2 separate regions of the Homo sapiens genome follow, and region 1 is linked to region 2. Evidence: fine-mapped QTL for protein levels in blood plasma. Region 2 holds a variant in brackets. A gene starts in the other region. All regions are shown on their reverse strands.

Evidence for each region. A credible set is the group of variants that fine-mapping cannot tell apart. PIP is the posterior inclusion probability: the model's chance that the variant is causal. Protein levels are from antibody-based Olink assays in UK Biobank. Linkage for the fine-mapping came from a reference panel and not from the study's own genotypes, which makes the PIPs less certain.
Region 1: CD300A starts here. The variant in region 2 is the best candidate, but not a certain one, in a credible set for the plasma level of the CD300A protein (UK Biobank, PIP 0.61).

Annotation. Positions count from the first base shown.
Region 1 is chr17:74,463,439-74,469,745 of GRCh38, reverse strand. It overlaps CD300A (CD300a molecule), which reads right to left and starts at 3,112. Exons shown (of 7, transcript NM_007261.4): 1 at 3,003-3,112. The coding sequence starts at 3,042. It overlaps LOC124904056 (a long non-coding RNA gene), which reads left to right and starts at 1,972. Exons shown (of 2, transcript XR_007065899.1): 1 at 1,972-2,196; 2 at 4,996-5,738. RefSeq lists an enhancer at 1,971-2,100 and silencers at 2,461-2,520, 2,561-2,620.
Region 2 is chr2:62,295,008-62,311,896 of GRCh38, reverse strand. No RefSeq gene overlaps it. Among named protein-coding and RNA genes, the nearest start is that of MIR5192, 98 kb to the right of the region's middle. RefSeq lists enhancers at 4,805-5,094, 5,815-5,884, 5,925-5,994, 5,560-6,085, 6,086-6,613 and 4 more. The variant A/G (reference allele first, on the strand shown) is at 8,052.

The DNA of each region.
Region 1 (6,307 bases), not on the chromosome of region 2:
TCAAGTGACTCTCATGTCTCAGCCTCCCGAGTGGCTGGGACTACAGGGTGCACACTACCATGCCTGGCTAATTTTGTGTTTTTAGGAGACACGGGGTTTCACCATGTTGGCCAGGCTGGTCTCAAACTCCTGACCTCAAGTGATCCACCCGCCTTGGCCTCCCAAAGTGCTGGGATTACAGGCGTGAGCCAACGTGCCTGGCCTCAAACAATTAATTAGACTAGTAGGTAGTCAGACCAAAAATAAAGAAGACGCAGATATAAAATTCAAAAGAAAAATTTGCAAATCTCTGCAAATAAGTCTGCAAACCTGGGCGACACTGATGATTTTTTAGGAAAATATAAATCATCAATGTAGGCCAAGAATAGACTTTTTTTTTTTTTAAGAGACGGGGTCTTGCTTGCTATACTGCCCAGGCCAGTCTCGGACTCCTGGGCTTAAGCTATCCTCCCACCTCAACCTCCTAAAATTCTGGGATTACAGGTGTGAGCCACTGCACCCAGCTAGATTTTTTTTAATGTAGACCAAAAATGATGAGTGTTATTAAGAAATTCTTTCCCTTCCATCAAAAAAAAAGAAGCAAAACTCAGACAGTTTTACAAGCTAGTTCTCTAAAAACTTCAAGGAACAAATAATTTCAATTTTATGTAAACATTTGCAGAGAACACGGAAACAGGGAGATCTCCCTAATTCTTTCCATGAAGCCAGCATAATAAATCAAGACAAACATCTGACCAGATCTCCTAATGTAGTTCACCTCCTTCATAGCTGAAAGGATAATAATAATAATAATTTCTATAAATAATAAAAATGGTATTTTGTGGGGGCCGGAGGCCAAGGCTGGCAGATTGCCTGAGCTCAGGAGTTCGAGACCACCTTGGGCAACATGGTGAAACCCCGTCTCTACTAAAATACAAAAAAATTAGCCAGCAGTGGTGGTGGGTGCCTGTAAGCCCAGTTATTCAAGAGGCTGAGGCAGGAGAATCACTTGAACCCGGGAGGCGGAGGTTGCAGTGAGCTGAGATCAAGCCACTGCACTCCAGCCCTGGGTGATAGAGTGAGATTCTGTCTCCAAAAAAATAAATAAAAATAAAATAAAAAATGTTTTGTAGGGGCCAGGTGTGGTGGTTCATGCCTGTAATCCCTGCATTTTGGGAGGACAAGATGGGAGGATCCCTTGATCCCAGGAGGTGGAGGCCAGCCTGGGCAACATGGTAAGACCCTGTCCCTAAAAAAAATTAAGAATCCAGCTGGGTGTGGTGGCACACACCTGTAGTCTCAGCTACTGGGGAGGTTGAGGTGGGAGGATCACTTGAGCCCGGGAGGTGGAGGCTACAGTGAACCGTGATTGCACCACCGCACTCCAGTTTGGGTGACGGAGGGAGACCCTGTCTCAAAAAAATAAAAATGTTGGCCAGGCTTGGTGGCTCACGCCTGCAATCCCAGCACTTTGGGAGGCCAAGGTGAGTGGATCACCTGAGGTTGGGAGTTTGAGACCAGCCTGACCAACATGGAGAAAGCCCATCTCTACTAAAAATACAAAATTAACCAGGCATGGTGGTACATGCCTGTAATCTCAGCTACTCGGGAGGCTGAGGCAGGAGAATCACTTGAACCTGGGAGGCGTAGGTTGCAGTGAGCCAAGATCGCGCCACTGCACTCCAGCCTGGGCAACAAGAGCAAAACTCCATCTCAAAAAATAAATAAATAAATAAATAAATAAATAAATAAATAAAAGTAAAAATGCTTTGTGAATAGTCATTGGTGGATCCCTTCTTCCTAATAATGAGAAGCTCTGGTCCTTTTTCCCTGAGTCAGCAACAAGGCAGGGACAACCACTACCACTATGTCCGCTGGGCCTCACTCCGGCTGTACCAGCCAATGAGTCAATGGGAGAAAGAGAAACAGATATTAGACAGGAACTGAAACCTTCCCATGCACACCGACCCTATGAAACAGAAGAACACCCAAGAGAATCGCAGGAGCACCTGTTATGGGAGGATGACCCGTTTCCAAGTCAAGACACCAAAAGTAATAACCTTCCCACAGACAAGTAGTTAGCAAATATAATTGCAGAAAACCTCCGATCTGTAAGGAAAGCAACCACAAAGACGTACAATACCCTAGGACTAGGCCTGAGGAGTCTGCACAGGAGCTGTCTGAGGAGAGCGGTGGACGTGACTGAAGGCACAGCAGGTGACTCTGCGGGAGGAATCCCTGCGCTTGGACAGGGAAGACTCAACTCCACGCTTCTCCCTAAAGAAGATCTCAGCGCTTCTCTGCCCGATCTTTTCCCTCCTCGCCCTCCCCACCACCTTTTCTGTCCCCTCTGTCCCATATCCCCTTCTTGGAGAGGACTGACCCCTGGTTCTCAGGCCCATGCAGGGGCTAACCCCAGCCAAGGCTGCCTCGGGACTTCCCCCTGCTCAGGCCCCAGCCGCTGGGCTGCCCTGGTTAAATCTCCGCATTCCAGAGACTATCGATCTGCTCCCCACCCCGACCCTATCTCCCTCACCGCCCCACCCCCTCCTCCGTACCCTGCACCTAGTGAGGCCGGCATCTCCCCCACCCTCCCCACACCCCCCTCCTCCATACCCTGCACCCAGTGAGCCCGGCATCTCCCCCACCCTCACCACATGCCCCTCGCAGTCAGTGGCTGCCACTCTCCACCCACCCTGACACATCCTGCCTCTCGTCCCCCTTCCTGTAAGAATTCAACTGAAAACCTAAAAGGTCCCTTTTCTGCACCCACCCCTTATCACTTGCCCCGCTGTGGTTCAGCCAAGGTACGTGGGTGCAGAGCCGGGAGAGGCCCTGGCTCCTTCCTCTCCCAGGGGTGTGGACCTTCATCTGTCCATCTTATGTGGTAGACAGAGCGCACCGCATTCTGCGTTCTGCACGGAGTCCAGACTCGGGGCGTCTCGTGTGATACCTGCCCTGCGGCCCTGCCCCTCGCACCCTCCCTCCCTGCCGCAGACTTTCCCGGGAAGGGAAACTCTCACCTGGGACCCAGAGAAGCAACAGAGCCCAAGGCAGCCACATGGTCCCTTCCCCAGCACAGGCGGCACTTGCAGCAGCTCCAGGCCCTACCTGGACCCGAGGGGAAAGTCACGCCTCCAAGGCCCCGACTTCTGCTTTTCTTGGTGCCGCGCTGCTTCCTTGTTCAGCTTCTTTTGGTTCTATTCCTGGAGCCGGTCAGAAAATGCAGGAAGCTGGTGAGCCCCGACTAAGACTCCCTAGAAACGGCACGTCCTCCTTAACGCTGGTTGAGGCTGCAGGTTCTTCGGCTATTTCTAGTGATGAGACCTCTCCCTGTAGTGACTCCGTAGCTTGCAGGACTGATCCCCGACTCTCACTTCCCCGGGTCTCCTCCTAGTGGAAGGCCCAATAACTCCTCCCTCCTTTCCTTGTGGTCAAGGTGGGCAACCCTGGGGGTGGGACCCGCTGAGCTGGCTCCTCTCACCCTCGGTGGTGCCCACGAGGAGGCTGCCAGGGGGAACTCCCCTTTCCTGAGTCCCTTCCCTGAGTCCCTTGGAGGTCCAGGCCTGGGCTTCGGGGCTGAGGGAAGGGGAGTTGTCATCGTGACTCCAGAGTCCCTGAATGGTTCCTAGTCTTGGAAATGTGTCCTCAACTTGACACAGAGGTCCTCCGGCCATGCCTTCCTTTCTATATAGCCCCATTGGAGCCAACTCGGGGCTGGGCACAGAGCAGGGACTCAGCGAGCCTGCAAGGACCCCTTTCCTGATCCACACAGAGTGCAGACTCTAAACACACACACGCTCACACTCACATACACACTCACACCCACACACACTCACCCACACACATTCACAAACACACACTCACATACACACACTCACACTCACCCACACACATTCACAAACACACACTCACATACACACTCACACAAACACACTCACCCACACACATTCACAAACACACTCACATACACACTCACACAAACACTCACCCACACACATTCACAAACACACACAAACACACTCAGCCACACACATTCACAAACACACAAACACACCCACACATTCACAAACACACTCGCATACACACAAACACACATTCACACACCCACACACATTCACAAACACACACTCACATACACACTCACATGCACACATATTCACACACACCCACACATTCACACTCACACATACACACAAACACATTCACAAACAAACACGTTCATGCACATACACTCACATATACACACTCACACACACATTCACAAACACTTTCACAAACACATACACACACGTACACACAAACACATACACACATTCACAAACACGTTCATGCACATACACACACACACACAAACATTCACACACCCACACACAAACACACACAAACACACTCACACTCTCACATACACACACACTCACCCAAACACACTCACATACACACACATTCACACACACCCACACACATACACTCACACAAACACATTCACACACCCACACACATTCACAAACACACACATACGCACACATTCACAAACACACGTTCATGCACACACACATATACACACACACAAACACACAGGCACTCTCACCCACACACATTCACAAACTCACATTCACACACAAACACAAATTCACACACACTGATACAAACACACATACACATTCACACATTGAAACACTCAAATTCACACAACGCACTTACATATACAACTGAAATACACTCACACATTCACACACAAACTCACACACTGACACATTCACACACAGTGACATACACTCACACACACACAGTCTCACACACGTGCCTTGAGTAGGTGCCCCAGCTTGCACAGAATGACCAGGTGGGCACAGGAAATGCCACTCCTAATGTGTAATGCGTCACCTGGGAGCTTGCAGTCCCCAAGCTCAGAGTGTCCACCCACATGGAGCCCTGTGCCAGCTATGGGATCCCAAGAATATCCTTCCCTCTGGCCCTTTTTGGAATTTGTCACTTTCCTCTTCCTTCTGAACACAGGGGCGCCTTGCCCACGAAGGTGTCAGGAAGCCAAGGAGACCTATGGGCTCTGCTGCTGGAAGATTCAATGACAAAGCCTGGTGGACATTGTGGAAATTTTCATGATGATGCAGTCATAGATTAACTAAACCTCATTAAGATCCAAGACACTTCGGGCCGGGCGCGGTGGCTCACTCCTGTAATCCCAGCACTTTGGGAGGCCGAGGCAGGCGGATCACGAGGTCAGGAGTTCGAGACCAGCCGGGCCAACGTGGCAAAACCCTGTCTCTACTAAAAATAAAAAAAATGTGGCGGGCACCTGCAATCCCAGCTACTCGGGAGGCTGAGGCAGGAGAATCGCTTGAACTCGAGAGGCAAAGGTTGCGGTGAGCCAAGATCGTGCCATTGCACCCCAGCCTGGGTGACAAGAGCAAGACTCCGTCTCAAAAAAAAAAAGATCCAAGACACTTTGGATCATGACACTGTTGAGCTGAACATAAAAATGCAGGAGATGTGTCATATTCGGTGGCTTATGTGGCCTGATCATTGCAAAGTTTCTCAAAAATTATTTTTTGATTCAACCATGACCAAAAAGGCGCTGCTGCAATCTTGAACGTCCAGGCCAGACAGAGAAGCAGAAGGCTAAGTTCTGGCGTGGCTTGTCCACTTACCACCGAATGAACTTGAGCAAAGCCTGTGGCTTCTGTAAAACGTCAATAATGACAGCTCCTCTGTGGGAATAAATATTATTATGATTATACAAATACTGAAATGTCAGTGTTCCTTAACATCCTCAGGTCAGTTTTTTCTGAGGGAATATATCTCTACTTTTGATGAAAGGTAATAGGAAAATTGGATTCCACAGGAAGTGCGCTTTACACTTTAATCTATGGGATGCAATTCTCCTTAGGCACATAGAGAAACACCTGACTTACTGCAAAGGAGAAGGGATCAGGGGACTTAGACCCTGCCACGCCCATCCTGCTCACCCCATCCTGTCCACAAACCCAAAGGAAGAAACAAAATGGTGCAAAATAACCACAAAACATGAGAGTTTTTTGCCGGAAGTTGCACATTCCGGCTGTGTCCCGATAACCATCAGGTGACATGACTCAGGGGGAGGAGGAGATGAGGCCACAGGGCTGAGGCCCATTTCCCAGGGGTGAGGGTGAGAAGTGGTCCCACAGCAGCCACAAAACTTCTGATCAGCTCTGGAGTCTCTTCCTGGTGTGGACACACGTGCTCAGAGGCCAATGAGGGGTGCTTTCTGGGAAGACCTGCAGCAGCAGCATTGAGTCCTGTGAACCACCCAGTCCTCAGAAAAGATGTGGGG
Region 2 (16,889 bases):
TAAACAATGAAGACATGCTTTGACATTGCCCAGTTTCATTTTTCTCCATATGGATGTTTTCCTAGCTTCAGTTATTGAATAGTTCCTCTTTTATCTCCTAATATGATATAGCGATTGATATTTTAACCATAACTTCACATTGATTCTTCATAGAAGAAAAAATTTCACTCATAATCTTAATAAAACATTATGTTGACATATACCTTTAAAACATATCAATTAATTACTTTTTTTTTTTTTTTTGAGACGGAGTCTCGCTCTGTCTCCCAGTCTGGAGTGCAGTGGTGCGGTCTCCGCTCACTGCAAGCTCCGCCTCTCGGGTTCACGCCATTGTGCTGCCTCAGCCTCCCAAGTAGCTGGGACTACAGACGCCCGCCACCACGCCCGGCTAATTTTTTTTTTTTTTTTAAGTAGAGACGGGGTTTCACCGTATTAGCCAGGATGGTCTCGATCTCCTGACCTCGTGATCCACCCGCCTCGGCCTCCCAAAGTTCTGGGATTACAGGCGTGAGCCACCGCGCCCGGCCTTTTTTTTTTTTTTTTTTAAACTGAAAAGTGATCACTTCTGTAGAATATATTTCCTACTGGCTATGCCCTCCTTGGCTTCACCCATGGCATTGGGCAAGTACCTGGTTGGCCCATTGCACTTCAGTGCAGAGCCTGGAGCCAGAAGGGAGGCCCTGCCATTGGTCAGCAGGGCAGCTCGCCTCACAGCTTCATTTGGACAAGAGTCGCAGACAAGCTCAAGGGTCTAGGGGAACCAGGTTTGGAGATGTTAGACTGGGAATGGGCTAGCTCAGAATCAATCTGAATGATATGACATTGTTACAGGCTGGGTTGAATTATGTTCCCCCAAAGGATATATGCTGGCCCCCAAACCTGTGAATGTGGCCTTATTTGGGAATAGTCTTTGCAGATGCAATCAAGTTAGGATAAAGTCATACTCAACTAGAGTGGTCCCTAATCCAATGACTGGTGTCCCTATAAGAAGAGGAAAGTTTGGACACAAATACACAGGGAAAAGACCTCATAAAGATGGAGGTAGAAATGAATATGATGGGTCTACAAGGCAAGAAACGCCAAGGAATGCCAGGAACGATAAGAAGCTAGAAGAGGCAAGGAAGTGTTAAAGCAAACTATATATGTCCTGAGAAGGACTCTGTACTTCTATATTTGAGTCCTTGTGGATGAACTGTAACCTAGCTTAATAGTCAGACAAAATTGAAAACCTAATTTAGGAGTATGCGCCTGTAACAATAACTAAGTCTTGGCCAATCCCAGAGGCTATACTTCAACCATTCATACTCTGCTGAGTGTTCAAACTACGTTCAAATAAGGCAAACACTGAGCTGTAACCAATCCGGTCATTCTGTACCTCACTTCCAATTTCTGTACATCATTTCCCTTTGTCTATAAATCTTCTTCCACCATGTAGCTGCGCCGGAGTCTCTGTGAATACGCTTGATTTGGGGGCTGTCCGATTCACAAATTGTTCATTTAATTAAACTCAATTAAACTCTTAAATGTAATTCAGCTGAAGTTTTTCTTTTTTCAGAAGGCCCCTCTCCTAGAGACTCTAGAGAGAGCATGGCCCTGCCACCACCTTGATTTCTGACTTCTAACCTCCAGAATTGTAAGAGAATAGATTTCTGTCATTTTAAGCCACAGTTTGTGGTACTAACACAGACACCTTCTCCTCTGCCAAAAATAATAATTCATGTGATGGGATAAAAATGACTGGCGAGTTCCCAACCTTTCCCACCCCCATGGCCCCTAATGAGGGTCCTGGTTACACTCTCCTCAGTTCCTCCTGGAGCCCACCCTCCAAGGAAGGAGCCCCGCCCTGCCAGCCATTTGTGAGATAAAAATCAGAGGAAACGGAAACTGAGAGCCAGACCGGGAGCCCCTGCAGCAAGTGAGAGCCATGTGTGGGAGAAGACGGAGGGGGACGTGCAAGAAGAACTGTGCCTCTCACATGGCCACCGTGAGAATCGAGTGCAGTCTAACGAAGGACTACGTTCACTTATCGGTGTGAGAAACACACGTGAAAGACTTGAGTTATTTTGAAATCACGTTTTGTTTCATGGTCTTTTGACCGCATCGCAGCTCCAGCACAGAGCTGAGCCACGTGGACCGAGGCTCTGTGAGCTTTCCTCTCCTCCCCATCACTGAATGCTTTCTGCCCTCCAGGCCCCTGCTAAGTGCTTGGCAGACTCCTCTCCTGTCCTCACAGCAACTCTAGAAGGACAGTGCTGTTTTAGATGACAAAACTGAAGCCTCACAGCAAACCTCAGTGAAATAGCCAAGGTCTAAAAGCTCAGATTACCTCATGCCTAGCTCAGAACTATTAGAATAATAATTGAAGCAGCAAGGAGCCTTGAGGCGACACCTAGAAGCTGGCAACCAACCCTACTACTGGTCTATGCTCTTGGGACAGCCTTGCCTCCTGGGATAATGGCAGCTCTGTTACCCTCCAGGAGATAGAGAATGGTGTGTTTCTGGCATTGAGGCCTAGCCAGGCCAGGGTGGGCAGAGGTGGCTGCTATACAATGGGCTCTGGAGCCAGACCGACAGGGTTCCCCCCAGCTCTGCCACTCTCTAGCTATATGGGCATGTTATCTGACCTCCCTGGGCCTCTGTTTCCTCATCTGCAAAATGGGGATAATAATAGTTGCCACCTCAGAGGGCAGTTGTGAGGATTAAGTGAATTAATACAGTATGTGACATGCTTAGAACAGCACTGGACACAGTAAGCCCTTAATAAAAGCTAGCTCTTGTGATTATTGAAAAACATGATGCTCTACTCAGATCTGACAAGACCTTAGCTACAAAAAATATAAATCATCAAGCAGACTGTCTGATATGTGTATTTTTATTAAGTGTAAGAATGAACCTCGGCTGGGTGCAGTGGCTCACGCCTGTAATCCCAGCACTTTGGGGAGGCCAAGTTGGGCAGATCACTTGAGATCAGGAGTTCGAGACCAGCCTGGCCAACATGGTGAAACCCCATCTCCACTAAAAATACAAAAAATTAGCCAGGCATTGTGGTGCATGCCTGTAATCTCAGCTGCTCGGGAGGCCAAGGCAGGAGAATTGCTTGAACCCGGGAGGTTCATTCGTGACCCCTCTATCTCAATTCCTGCTTCTGTGGAATGGGGATTGCTCTCTGCCTCACAGAGATTTTGTGAGCAGGAAAGGCACAGAGTAGGACTCACAGCAGCTAATAAATAAGTTTGTCTCCTTGGTTTATAATGGCCAAGCTCATGCACCCTCAGAATAAGTACAGAAGGTGAGGAGACTGTGCAAGTAAACATGGTAGGTACAGGTGACCCGGGTCCAAGCCCCTTGTTGGGCCAGGTGTTCCCTTTTCCTTCCTCTCTCTCAGGCCTGCTTAGGGATTAGAGGGTGGGAGAGCCAGTCAAGAGCAGGTTGCCATCCTCCAGCAGCACGGAGGTCTGTGATGGTCTGGGATGTGACAGGGACCTGTGGCTGATTTCTAACCAGCCTTCTAACCAGTTGAAGAGCTGGACCAGCTTTCTGTGCTGCAGAAAGCTGCAGCGGGGTTGACAGACAGACTTGCACTCACACCCTGGGCACATCACCTTCTGCAGACCTTATGGGCCTCACCTATAAAGCAGGGATAATAGAGCCTACCCCACAGACCTCTTCTGAGGATTCCAGATGGTACTTGGGAAAGCACCTTGCAGGGCACCTGGCATCTAGCACGCTTCTGTAAAAGCCACTCGGATGCGACATTCCTAGCCCACGTGGTTGCTCTTTGGTTTTCCTTTTCTGTAAAATGGTGATGATAAAACTACCACCTCCCAGGTTTAACATGAGCATGAGATAAGGCAGGGCACAGAGGAAACGTCGATAAAGGACAGCTACGAGGGATGTTACATGCTTTTACACTTATTATTCCTGTGAACCAAGAGTTTGGATAGCGCTCCGATCCTTGATAAAGGGCCTTTCCAACTAATCTCAGGGACCACTCCTACAAGAATCACATAAGCATGGCAACTGCTCCCTGCCTTCTACAACTTCCTGGCTGGCACAGATCAGGGACTCGCCCACAGGTCTCCTTGCTAGGCAGGCTCCTCGGCCCCTCCCTGGTGCCCTGTCAGCTCTAGGCTTTCTTGCCCCCTCATCAGGCAGTGCCTACCCACCCCTCATAGAAACCCACATGTACAGAGGGACTCAGGTTCAAGGCCTTCTCTTTTTTGGTTGCCCCGTAGATAAGCACTCATGGCATTTTAGTTTTGTAAGTTTCACAGCAGATAATTACAGGAAAACAGATAGGGGATGGTCAAAAGAGCAAATCCCAGGAAGGTGCGAAGTCCTCCCAGGCTGGTCCTGACTTTCTGGGAATAGGAAGTGTTACTCCTGAAGACTGTGGCGATTCATAGGACTTTTATATTGAACATGGGACCAGGACACCGAGAGGCAGGTCAGCCCTGGAGAAATTTCAGCCAGTGCTAGTTTCCTGTCAGGAAGGGCAGGGGAGAAATGGGCAGCTTCCACTCTTCACAAAGGATAGCAGTGAATGAACTCCACTGCTACAGAGACAAACCCCTCAGGTCCTGGCTGAAGACAGACGAGGCAGCCAGCAATCTCAGATGCCTTACCTATTTCCAGGGGACAGGGGGCTGGACACAGAGAGGAGGGTCACCAGCCTGGCACAGAGAACACAGAGAGCAGAAAACTGAGCCAAGAAGGCTGCCCCCTCCAAGTGTTTACCTGAAATATTCACAAACATGATGAGTCACAGAAAGAAAGCAGAAAAACCAGTAAGATGTGTAACCAGATTCTCTTCCACAAAGCAAGGAGAAGTTGTGGCAATAATGCCAGTGGGCACGGTGTGCTCTGCTGAGGGCCCTGCTTGAGAAACCTGTGTCTCCACCACACTTTCGGCCTCAGCTAAGGTTGAGAAGGGAAACTGACAACTGTGCCAGGGCAGGAAAGTCCCTGCAGGAAGCCTGCTGCTGGTCTGGGTTACCAGGGCAACTGGCAGCTGCTCTCTTCTCTTGAAAGAGAATGGACTTGGGAGGCCCAGATGGGCTCTGCCCTAGTAGCCCAAATAAGAAGGCTTAACCTTAGACAGCATCAAATAACATCGGAGTACGCCGCCCCCACAGCACTTCCCATGCATCCCCATCTGATTTCATCTACCTCTCAGGAGAGCCGGGTGCAGGGTGATTATAACCATTCCATTCCACAGTGGAGAAAACTGAGATCCGGAGACACTAAGTCACTTGCTTAGATTTACATGACTAAGAATTAGTTTGGATCCATCTGGGCATGGTGGCTCACACCTATAATCCCAGCACTTTGGGAGGCTGAAGTGGGCGGATCACTTGAGGTCAGGAGTCCGAGACCAGCCTGGACAACATGGTGAAATGCCATCTCTACTGAAAATACAAAAACAAAAACAAAAACAACCAACCAAACAGACAAAAAACTAGCCAGGCTGGGGGCTTATGCCTGTAATCCCAGCTACTTGGGAGGCTGAGGAAGGAGAATTGCTTGAACCCGGGAGGTGGAGGTTGCGGTGAGCCGAAATCGCACCACTGCACTCCAGCCTGGGTGACAGAGGGAGACTCTGTCTCAAAAAAAAAAAAAAAAAAAAAAAAATAGAATTAGCTTGGATCCTACCTGAGTCTTTAAACACCAAGTCTAGTGAACATCCCCCTACACAGTCTGGCTGCCGAATCAAGAGCTTGGGTTTTTTCAGTGCTCTCATATCTATGAATGCATGCATTCTGTTTGCAAAATACCAGGCATGGATCATACCCCTCTTCATCTCCCACATCAGAGATGTGAAACGGCCGTGCAAGGAGGCAGGGCTGCCACGGCAGCAGTTTGAGTGGGTAGCCAACATCTGACCGAGACTCGAATCCAGAGCTTTTTCCATGACACCAGCTGGCTGCCTTGCCCCTCACCACATCTGGAAAAAATGACTCAGGTGACAGCAGGCTAATCATGTCATCCTTGTGACTGCAGGTGCCACGTCGTTTATGAAGCACTTTAAAGTGGGAACGCTTGCCCTGGCTTTCCCCCAGGCCTTTATTAAGTAAAGGTCATGCTGTTTGTTAAGATTTGAGCACACTGGTGGCTGGCTCACAGGAAAGAGCTTCATAAGCTGTGCCTGAGATAAGGTTGCTTCTGGAGGCCTCTCTGCAGAGAAGAGCGAAGCCCACCCCCACTGCCTGGCTGGTTGGATAATAAGACTCAGAAGCTCCAGTTCTCCCTGTCCCGTCTGGCCTCTGTGAATTGTCTGACTGCACTGCCACTTTTCTCACCTGCCTGAGGTTACTGTCCCAGAACCACCTGACCGCACAAGAAAGGCGGGAGCAAAGATAGGTTCAGGCCCAGAGATGGTTTCTAGTCTCCCTCTGTGATGGTGATTTTTCTGGCTGCAAGAGGTTTCCAATCCTGTCTCCACCAATGATTCCACAACTTTCCCTCATTCTCTGTGACTCTGGATTCCAGACTCAGGGCCCCGAGGTAACCTGAAGCCTCTCATCTGGTCATTGCACTAAAACCTTGGCTAGGGCAGGTGGCTTCCTTCTATGCCCAGATCAAAGGCGTGAGCAATGCCCTCAGCAGCTTCCCCAAGGCAGTAACAGGAAATAATCCTCCTCACCAGCCCCTCCCACCCACACTGTCCCAGCAGGTGGTGTTTGCAGAGGTAGCACCAGGTAAGGCAGGTGGCAGGGGAGAGGAACTGGATTGAAACCTCAGTTGGCCTCAAGCCACCCACTGCTCCCACCTTTCTTGTGTGGCTAGGATGTTCTGTAGCACAGACCACAGGTACGTGAGAAAAGTGGCAGTCCAGTCAGACACAGAACCTGCAAAGCCACATAGGAAGGGGAGAACTGGAGCTTCTGAGTCTTATTATCCAATCAGGGAGTTGGGGTGGGATTGGTTCCTCTGCAAAGAGGCCTCCAGAAGCCAGCCTTATCTCAGGCATAGCCTTGGGAACCATTTCCTGTGAGTCAGCCGCCAGCGTGCTCACATTTTAACCATGTTGGGCAGCATTCGCAGGCCGCCTGTTGTGAGGCAAGAAGCCTCCGCTGTTCTGGAGGAAGCCCACGTGGGGTGATTCTGAGCAAAGTCATTATGGGTCCTGTTAGGAAACATTAATTGTGTTTATGGGTAGAACCGCCCCCAAACAAATTAGACACATGTTCTAAGGTGTCCATTTTTTAAAATCTTGGTTGAGGTTGCCCTTTGGCTCCTGGGTGACATGAGTGCTTTGTTGTCCAACATTTGTTCCTGGGAGATGGGGTTACCAGAGGTTGGAAGACCTGACCCTCTCCTCACCTCAGGCTGGAGGAAAGGCTGTAACGATGCGCTGGGAGGGAACAATGCTGCCTAGACGGGCCTGAGGCTCTGACAACAAAACACTCAGACTGGACACTAAGATGGTGGTTTATTTTCTCAGAGGGGAAAGGGTCAGACCACACCTTCAGGTGTGGAGGGAGGAGGGAGATTGCCCCTAACAGAAAGGGGTGTCCTCATGGTCTGTCATCCCAAGGCAGGCAAGGAAGAGTGTTGTGGGCTGGAAAGGGAGGGATTTCTTCCTCTCTCTGTGGAGAAAGGGGGCCTGTATATTGCTGTTGGTGGGAGCTAAAGTGGCCCCTGCCAAATGGAGGCCTTTGGGTACAAGACACTTCTCCTCTGGAGGCAGATGGAAATTTCTAAGGCTGCTTTCTTTATGCCCCAACTCAGTGGAACCTGTGGTCAGATGAGCTGTGGGGGGTTGGGGAGGGCAATGTCTCCTTCCCAAGGCCTGGCAGAGTCACTAAGTCGCCAGTCCCATAAGCTACAGAGGCAGAATCATGGCAGCAAGAAGAAAAGGGTAGAGTGAGAGTGAGAGATACTTTCTGGAGCTGTGCAAAGCTGTCCCTGGGAAACTTTCAGAAATACTCGGGAGGGGAACTCTATGGTTAGGTAGAGTTAGATGTAGGAAGGAAGTATAATTTCACTTTAGAGTTGGTAAAGTTTCAACATAGGTTAATTGCATATGAAACACTCATTTCAAAGATGAA[A/G]TAACCAGGGGTTTGGAGGCCTGAGAAAGAGAAACCATGAGACGGGGGTCTTCTGTCTGAGAAGCAGGTGCAACCCTCTGGCGGTAGCAAAGACCCAGGAGTTCCTGGGGTCTTGCGTGGAGCCTCGACAGCACATGTGCCTGGATTTTGGGTAAGGGTGGCACAAGCGAGGCCAGAAGCACCCCTCCTTCTCCCTGGCACATCATAAGGTGATCAAAGAATAATTTTTTTGAAAAAAGTCAAAAGCTGGCAGGGTGCAGTCGCTCATCTCTGTAATCCCAGCACTTTGGGAGGCTGAGGCGGGCAGATCACCTGAGGTCAGGAGTTTGAGGCCAGCCTGGACAATAGGCTCTACTAAAAATACAAAAATTAGCCGGGCGTGGTGACGGGTGCCTGTAGTCCCAGCTACTTGGGAGGCTGAGGCAGGAGAATTGCTTGAACCTGGGAGGCAGAGGTTGCAGTGAGCCAAGATTGTGCCATTGCATTCCAGCCCGGGTGACAAGAGTGAAACTCCATCTCAAAACAAAACAAAAACAAAAAAGTCAAAAGCTAACCAGAGGCAACCACACATGGAAAATAGTACAACCTTATGACATAAGACTGAAAAGGTGTCAAGAGGGAAGAAATAGAGGGTCTCAGAATGGAATGTTAGCTGTCTCTCTCCCACACACATAGCTGAAGCCAAATGAGGGAAGGTAAGAGAACAGGATCCCAAGAAGGGTCACCAGCACCTCTCAGTTCGGCACAAAGAGGGCCAAGATGCTAAAGGCAGCCTGGGGAGTCCAGGAGAAGCTCCAGAGAGGAGGAGCCCCTGGGCACCATCACAGAAGCCAGCAGCGGCTGGAGGAGTGGCTGGCTGGACTTGCTGCTGTTCAGAACTCTGTGCTGTCCAAGGGAATGAGCTGAAGTCCCAGGAGGGGACATGTGCCTGCCAAGTGGAGCAGACCCAGGTGTGGGATGCTAGCCCACGTCAGGAGGGAGCCAGGCCCAGCTCTGTCCTTCACCTGTCCATGTGACCCTCAGAGCTCAGGAAGCAGGAAGGAAGTACCACCCAGTCCCCAAACTCTAGTATTGAGGAAATGACAGGTAGCTAGAAAAGGTGTCAAAAAGAATTCGTCCTCACACTCTCAGAGCGTTAGATAGTCTGATCAGACTTACCTGTGCAAAATTAAAAGAGACAGCATGAAGGCTAAGCCAACATACTAGATTTTAAAAAAGAAGAACACCAAGAAGGAGAAGGCAGAGTAGGAGAAAGAAGAGAAGGAAAATAAGCAAGAAACAGGCTGAGTGCGGCAGCTCATGCCTGTAATCCCAGCACTTTGGGAGGGTAAGGCAGGAGGATCACTTGAGCCCAGTAGTTCGAGACCAGGCTGGGCAACATAGTGAGACCCTGTCTCTATGAAAAATAGAAAAAATGACCAGGGTGTAGTGGCGCACGCCTGTAGTCCCAGCTACTCTGGAGGATAAGGCAGGAGGATCAATTGAGCACAGGAGGTGGAGGCTGCAATGAGCCATAATTGCACCCCTGAACTCCAGCCTGGGTGACAGAGTGAGACTCTGTCTCAAAAACGAACAAAAAAAGCAAGAAACACAACATGAAAAAGATAAACATATCCAGATATCTAGATTGGGAGAAATCTCTCTCCCAAGTACAGAAGAAAACTCCTGAGAATGCTTCACATTGTAGAACAAATAAGAATATATAATACTTAATTAATCATTTTAATTTAATAGTTAATTATATTAATTTAACAATTAATAATTTGTATTAACTTGGTATATAATTAATTTTAAAATATTTAATATGCTTTTGAAATTTAGTAAAACGAGAACCCAAAGATGACTTGATAAGTCTACCAAGTGAAATGCAAAGGAAATTCAGAGCTAAGGAAAAAAATTCAGGATGAAAACAAGAGCTTTATAGAGCTATTAGATAAATTAGAAACATCAAGGAAGCTTGAAATTTTCCCAGCTCAGGAAAATCTTGAGATAATTCTAGTGAACATGGAAGAAAATGACAAAGCAATTAAAGTAGTTAAGAAGATGTTGGATGTATGGAGGACAAACACAAATCAACGTAAGGATAATTACTATTGAATTTCAGGTCAACATGTTGAGCACAGGGTGAACTCCCCCTACTGCTGTCATCTCCTATTGCAAATGCATAGAAAAACTTAATAAAATATAAAAATATATTTTAGATTGATATGTCCAAGCTCCATGCAAGAAAGGGAAATCTCCAGGGACAGAGTAGGAACAAAGTCATACAGGCATCCCTCAGGCATAGTGCCAGTTTAGTTCCAGACCACCACGCAGTAAATATCATGATAAAGCAAGTCACAAAAATTTTTTGGTTTCCCAGTGCATATAAAAGTATGTTTACCCTATACTGTGGTTTATTAAGTGTGCAATAGCATATGTCTAAACAATGTACATACCTTAATTAAAAGATAATATTGCTAAAAAATGCTAATGAAGTGAGCACGTGCTGTTGGAAAAATAGCACTGATAGACTTGCTCCACGCAGGGTTGCCACAAACCTTCAATTTGTAAAAAATGCAATATCTGCAAAGTGCAATAAAGCAAAGTATAATAAAATAAAACATGCCTGTAAATGGGAGCTAAAGCCGGAAGACCCACAGGGGACTCAGACTGGATGAGCTGTGGTTGCAATTTCAATGCGTCATGAGCCCCACATGCAGCAGGAAGCCATGAGTCCAGGAGGCAGGACCATGCCACCCCTTCAGGAAGAGGGCTGCCCAAGGTTGTGGCTGAACACAAGCCATCTGCCCAGCTATCAGTGGAAACAGTCAACAGTCCTGGTCCACTAGCCATAGACTTGGTTTGAAGTCAGTGCTCTATTCCATAGGACAACACTGAAACCTCCTCACCGGAATCCTTCTTCTAAAACCCAGACCACACAGTGGAGAAGTCCCAAGAAAGATGGCTCCCATGAAAGACAAGCTCATAGGCAAGAATTACACACCCTATAAGGAAGATCAACAACACTAAAGGCAGTTTTCAGACCCCCCCAAAGAAGAAAATTTATACTTAAGGAACTAGAGATAATAGACAATCTTGAAGGGGGTTTTAAAATGTATACATAAAACTTCAGGGAACTAAATGAAAGAATAGCCATCACAAATAAGAACAGATGGTTATGAAATAAAAATAGGCAAATACGTGAAAAAGTATACATATTAGAAACGAATAATGCAGTTATTGAGGTAGCTGGATGTCTTATTTATGTTTTATAGGTGTGTGAGTTTTTTATACACAAACATTCACATGTACATATACAGAAAAAGATTGGAGGGAAATACATCAAGTGGTAAGTAATAGCTAACTCTGAGAATAGGACTAGGGGTGTTTTAATTTTCTTCTTTTTGCCTACCTGTAACTTCAAACTTTTTTGTTACAGTGAATATGTAATTAAGAAAAGAAAAAAATCACTAAGAGACATATTTGTTTTTTAATTTTTAACTTTTATATTTTTGTAGGGACAAGGTCTCTCTATATTGCCCAAGCTGGCCTCAAACTCCTGGGCTCAAGCAATCCTCTCGCCTCACCCTCTCAAAGTGCTGGGATTACAAGTGTGAGCCACTGTGCTCAGCCTAAAGACACATTTTAATTTCACAATGATGAAGGATGTATACCTACTATGTACCCTCAAAATTAAAAATTGAAAAAAAAAGCGAAGGCAGAGTTGGTAGTGCTTGGACTCAGTCAATATCACCACATGTAAAATGATCATGAATTAAACCAAGAGATATTAATAAAATTTTATTATACTACATGAAAATAGTTGAATAAGATTTGAACAAATGTTTAGAGCATATTGGGATTGTCTGACCTTATTTAGGATCAAGGTGATACCCAAAATAATTCACTTCAAAGAGTGAGGCAGGCATCCTCCAGAGTGTCTACCACTGAGACCCAGTGAGAGGCCCTGGTGGAGAAGGGAGGTTCTGCGCCAAAGAAGCCAAGCAGTAATTTTGAATGTGAGCTGCACATAAAAAAATCATACAGGGCTGGGCGCAGTGGCTCATGCCTGTAATCCCAGCACTTTGGGAGGCAGAGGCAGGGGGACCACTTGAGGTCAGGAGTTCGAGACCAGCCTGGCCAACAAGGCAAAACCCCGTCTCTACTAAAAATAATACAAAAAAATTAGCCAGGCGTCGTGGTGTACACCTGTAAGCCCAGCTACTCAGGAGACTGAGGCAAGAGAATCACTTGAACCCAGGAAGTGGAGGTTACAGTGTAATGTATGTGTATACACAGTGTAATGTGAGTTTCCCAGTCACAGCATCCTAAGGGACTGAGTCACAACTGCAGTGTGAATAGAAATATTTTTTACCCTAGGCCCCTACCCCATGGTCCCCTCCTCCTCCTCCTCCTGGCAGGGCCCAAGTATCTCATCAACACTGCCTCCGCTGATAAAGCCTTCCTGGACTTCTCTCTGGGCTATTCTCCACTGTGCTTCAGTGGGATCGGCAGCAGGTTTTGCATGAGCACCAGCCTGGCCATCATCAAGGCAAGCAGTGATGTTGCCAACTCCATACATCACTGCTAGTGTTGGCCACTAGCAATACAGTGTAGTCACTGTCACTCCCCAGTGAGGACATCACCGTGTACTCTGACCGTGGTTGCCACTACCCCATGTTGGGGCTGACACTACCCCATTGCCCCTGTGCCAATTAGACCAAAGAGTGCCCTTCCTTAAGACATTGGACTTCCTCTAACAGAAAACCATCATGATATTCTGACTTTAGGATGCAACACTTGGCTGCCATTTGCTGGAAAGATTTCTCTTTGGTGTCCATTATGTGTATGGGCTTCTTGGGATGTGGTAGGGCACAGCCTGGCCAGTTTCTAACTCTTTGAAGTGGAAGAGATGTCTCTCCTGATCAGTTTTCATGGCTTGTTTATAAGGCTCCAAAAGGACCACTCCTGCTCTTTTCATTTTCTTAGGGCCTCCTAGATTCCTCCACCAGGGCTGGGTCAGAAGTCATCAACCATCAACCACCATCAACCACCCAGGGATACGTGCAAGAGACTCCCCGCAGTGATTCTACCATGGAGTGATTTTTTTGCCCATCCAAGCATATTCTTCAGGGGTCAAAGTCACCTTTGTCTTTATTTTTTTTCCCCTAGACATGTAAACCTGCTCTCCTAGAATCCTGTAGTCAGTCCTTAAAATTATCTTCATTTCTTCAAGGAGTCCTAGTGGGTTTTCACACAGAGTGGATACCTGAAATCCCATCTGGGCATGCCAACGCTTAGCTCTTGCCTCCAGCACAACTGGGGTCACAGGAGTCTCTGCCACACAATTGTGACTTATTAGACAAACATGGCCTGCAGCTGCCTGAACTTGGCTGGCTTCTCTGAAAGAGTCTCCTTCCATCACAAGTCACCTGTGGTCTCTTAGTGTTCATTCACAACAGTTGATATTTAACAACCAAAGCCAGCCCAACATATAATAAGGTGTTTGAACTAAACCAAGAAGTTTCTCCCTCTAAACTTCAATTGGGTTAAATTTCTTAGGAAGAGAGCCCCTTAAAGAAGCAGCCATCAGTCAGTGTTAACTAAGCATCTCCTAACAAAGCTCTTAGATGCGGAAGAGGACTCCAAGGTGGTCTCCAACTCTCCATAGGAATTGCATCCTACAATTCCATTCCATCCTGATTAATATGTAGGATTAATTAATATGTTGGATTGGACCTGAAGTCAGTGCAGACACCACAGGTTTAGGGTTTAGTCCCATGAGACTGCTCCACTTTGGATGCCAGTCGAAAGTCACAGGTTGTCCCCAGTACTTCTGATCAATCAGCTATAAACCAAGAGTTTCCACAACCCCCTCCTCAGGTTGGATAATTTGCTAGAAGGACTCACAGAACTCAGGAAAGTATTTTACTTACTATTACTGGTTTATTGGAATGGATACAAGTTAGAAACAGGCAAATGGAAGAGATGTAAAGGACAAGGTACTAGGGGGCGGTGTGGAGCTTCCACGCTCTCTCTGGAATGCCACCCTCCCAGGACCTCAACGTATTCAGCAACTCAGAAGCTCTCTGAACCTCACTGTTCAGTTTTTAATGGAGATCCCATTACCTAGACATGATTGATTAAATCATTAGCCATTGGTGATTGACTCTATCTCCAGCCCCTCTCTCTTCCCAGGAGGTCCAGGATAGGGCTGAAAGTTCCAATCCTCTACTCCTGCCTTGGTCTTTCTGGAGAGCAGCCCCCATCCTGAAGCTAACTAGGGACCCCCAGCCACCGGACATCTCATTGGCACACAAAAGACACTCATCTCTTGGGGACAAAGCCCAAGTATATCTTATCACAGATAGACAGACTGGGCCCCTTCATGGAAAAAGTTCCCAATTTACTCTGAAAGATAAGAGTGACTATACTTCGCTGCTTGCCTGCCACGGTCCCAGTTTACACACATTGTCCCAGAGTAATTATTATTCCCACCTCCTTTCACTCTTAAGAATGTCATGGTTTGGAGGCTAAAAGTCACACGGTCACCCTAGATAAGACACATATTTAAGAAAAGAGAACTTGGAAGTCAGAGTAGAACACACCATTAAGTGTTAGGATTGTCACAAAGCCCATGAGGCTGGCTAGGGACCCCTGGAGTCAGTGTCTAAGGCTCCTTTTCTTACCAGGCCCTGCACATGCCTCTCGCACCAGGGAAAGGGAGGCCTCTGGAGAGGGCAAGGGCACCGGTTAGATGCAGCAAATCCCAAAAAAGTCTGACTTCATTGCTTTTCCATTCGTTGGTAAAGACAAATAAAAGGCTATAAAATACATTTTAAAGGGAGGGCACTAGAGACAGCATTATGGACTTTAGACCTATGAAGACCTGAAGCCCTACTTCGTATCCACACATACCACAGGCTCTGAATGCTGAGTGAAAAATAGCTCAGTGACAGAGAGAGAGAGAGAATGTGAAAAAGAGAGAGAGAGAGAATATGTGTATCTGATTCCATGTGATTTAGGGGTTTTGTCTGGAGACATCCCTGTGCCTCGCTCCCCCTCCCTGGGCGTGGCTGGCCACTCGCATCCCTGGCTCCCTCCTCCCATGTACCACGTTTCCAGTCCTCTTTGCTGAGGATAACACTGCACAAAGACAAATGGTGAAGCCTCTTTTTTCTCCAACTGAAGTAACACCCAGGCGATGAGAGCAGCACATCTTAATTCCCAACAAGTTTACTCGAAGAGCCCCTTCCTCCTCTGCTCCCTTGGCTATCCGGCACCTCGATGTCCCTCCCGCCCTTGCAGGGAAGCCTGGGTGTTGCCAGCTCCCTGGTGAGGAAAAGGCAGGTTCTCCTGAGGGAAGGAGCGAAGAGGACATCTGACTTGGGTACCCATGTTCCCTTTGGTTATTTACCTGTCCTGTGGCTGACGCCACCACCCACACCTGGAGATGTCCCCAGAGCACACCGTGGGCGAAGGTGTTTTCCTCTCTTCATTCTCGTGTTTAATACAACCAGATCTTGGAAGCGCTGGGAAGAAGGGCAGGCAGTGAATGGTGTGACAGAGCCAAATCCTCTGACCCCACGCCTTTCCCTGGGCTTGACAGAGTGGGGACAGATAGGGCATCTCCACAGGCAAGGCTGTGGGGATTGATAAGACGGGCACACCCACAACTCCCGAGTCACTGACAACCCTCTGCATCCTGTGAAAGAGTCATTTTCAAGAAGTCAAAAACATGGTTGTAAGGGATGGCCCAAGGGAGTTTTTCAGGGGGATGATGGACCTGTTTTGTATCCTAATTGTGGTAGCAGGTACGCAACTATATATGGGCTAGAATTCATAGAACTGTAAATGAAGAAAACCCTCAACTTTGCCAGATGTTAATTTTTCAAAATTAAATTTTAAAACATGGCTTTCACACAAATATAGAATGAACATGTATCTAAAAAGTATTTAATCAGTGAGAGAACCAGCAGGATGGAAGAGCTGGTTTAAAAAAAAATGTAGGAGACATCAAAATAGTTACAATTACTGAAGGAAAGAATATTAAAGTAATATTGCTAAATCACTTTATATAAAACCTTAGACTTTCTTTCTCTTCTTTTTTTTTTTTTAAGATGGAGTCTTGCTCTGTTGCCCAGGCTGGAGTGCAATGGCGTGATCTCCCCTCACTGCAACCACTGCCTCCCAGGTTCAAGCGATTCTCCCACCTCAGCCTCCTGAGTAGCTGGGATTACAGATGCCCACCACCATGCCCGGCTAATTTTTGTATTGTTAGTAGAGATGTGGGGGTTTCACCATGTTGGCCAGGCTGGTCTCAAACTCCTGACCTCAGGTGATCTGCCCACCTCGGCCTCCCAAAGTGCTGGGATTACAGGCGTGAGCCACTGTGCCCGGACTTAGCCTTTTTTCCCCTTTTCTTTTTTTTTTACAATTTTTTATGGGGCAATATTTCATCCCATAAAATAGAATGAGTGTCCTCCCTGGCCTTTTCACTAAAATGCTTTTATTTGTGTCACTATAAAACAAGTCTGCACCCTATCAGTTTCCTATGCCTTTGTCATAAAGTTGTAAAATAACCTAATGAGTAGTAAATAGCAAGTTAGACAAAGGTCTACACCCCTAGAAAGTCAGGTAATTCCTTGAACAGGCCTGCCAGACAATGCCCAAGGCTGACATGACTCAAAGGACCTGCAGGAATCTCTGCTCCATTTTCAAGTCTTGGACAATTTTCCCTAACAATTTTCCTGTTCCTATTTCCCAGGGGAAAGGAAACAGGAATGTGAGGCCCACAGCTGTGCCCAGGGAGGAAATAGTGAACTGAGCTATCAAAGAAGGGAGAGGCCCAGGGAT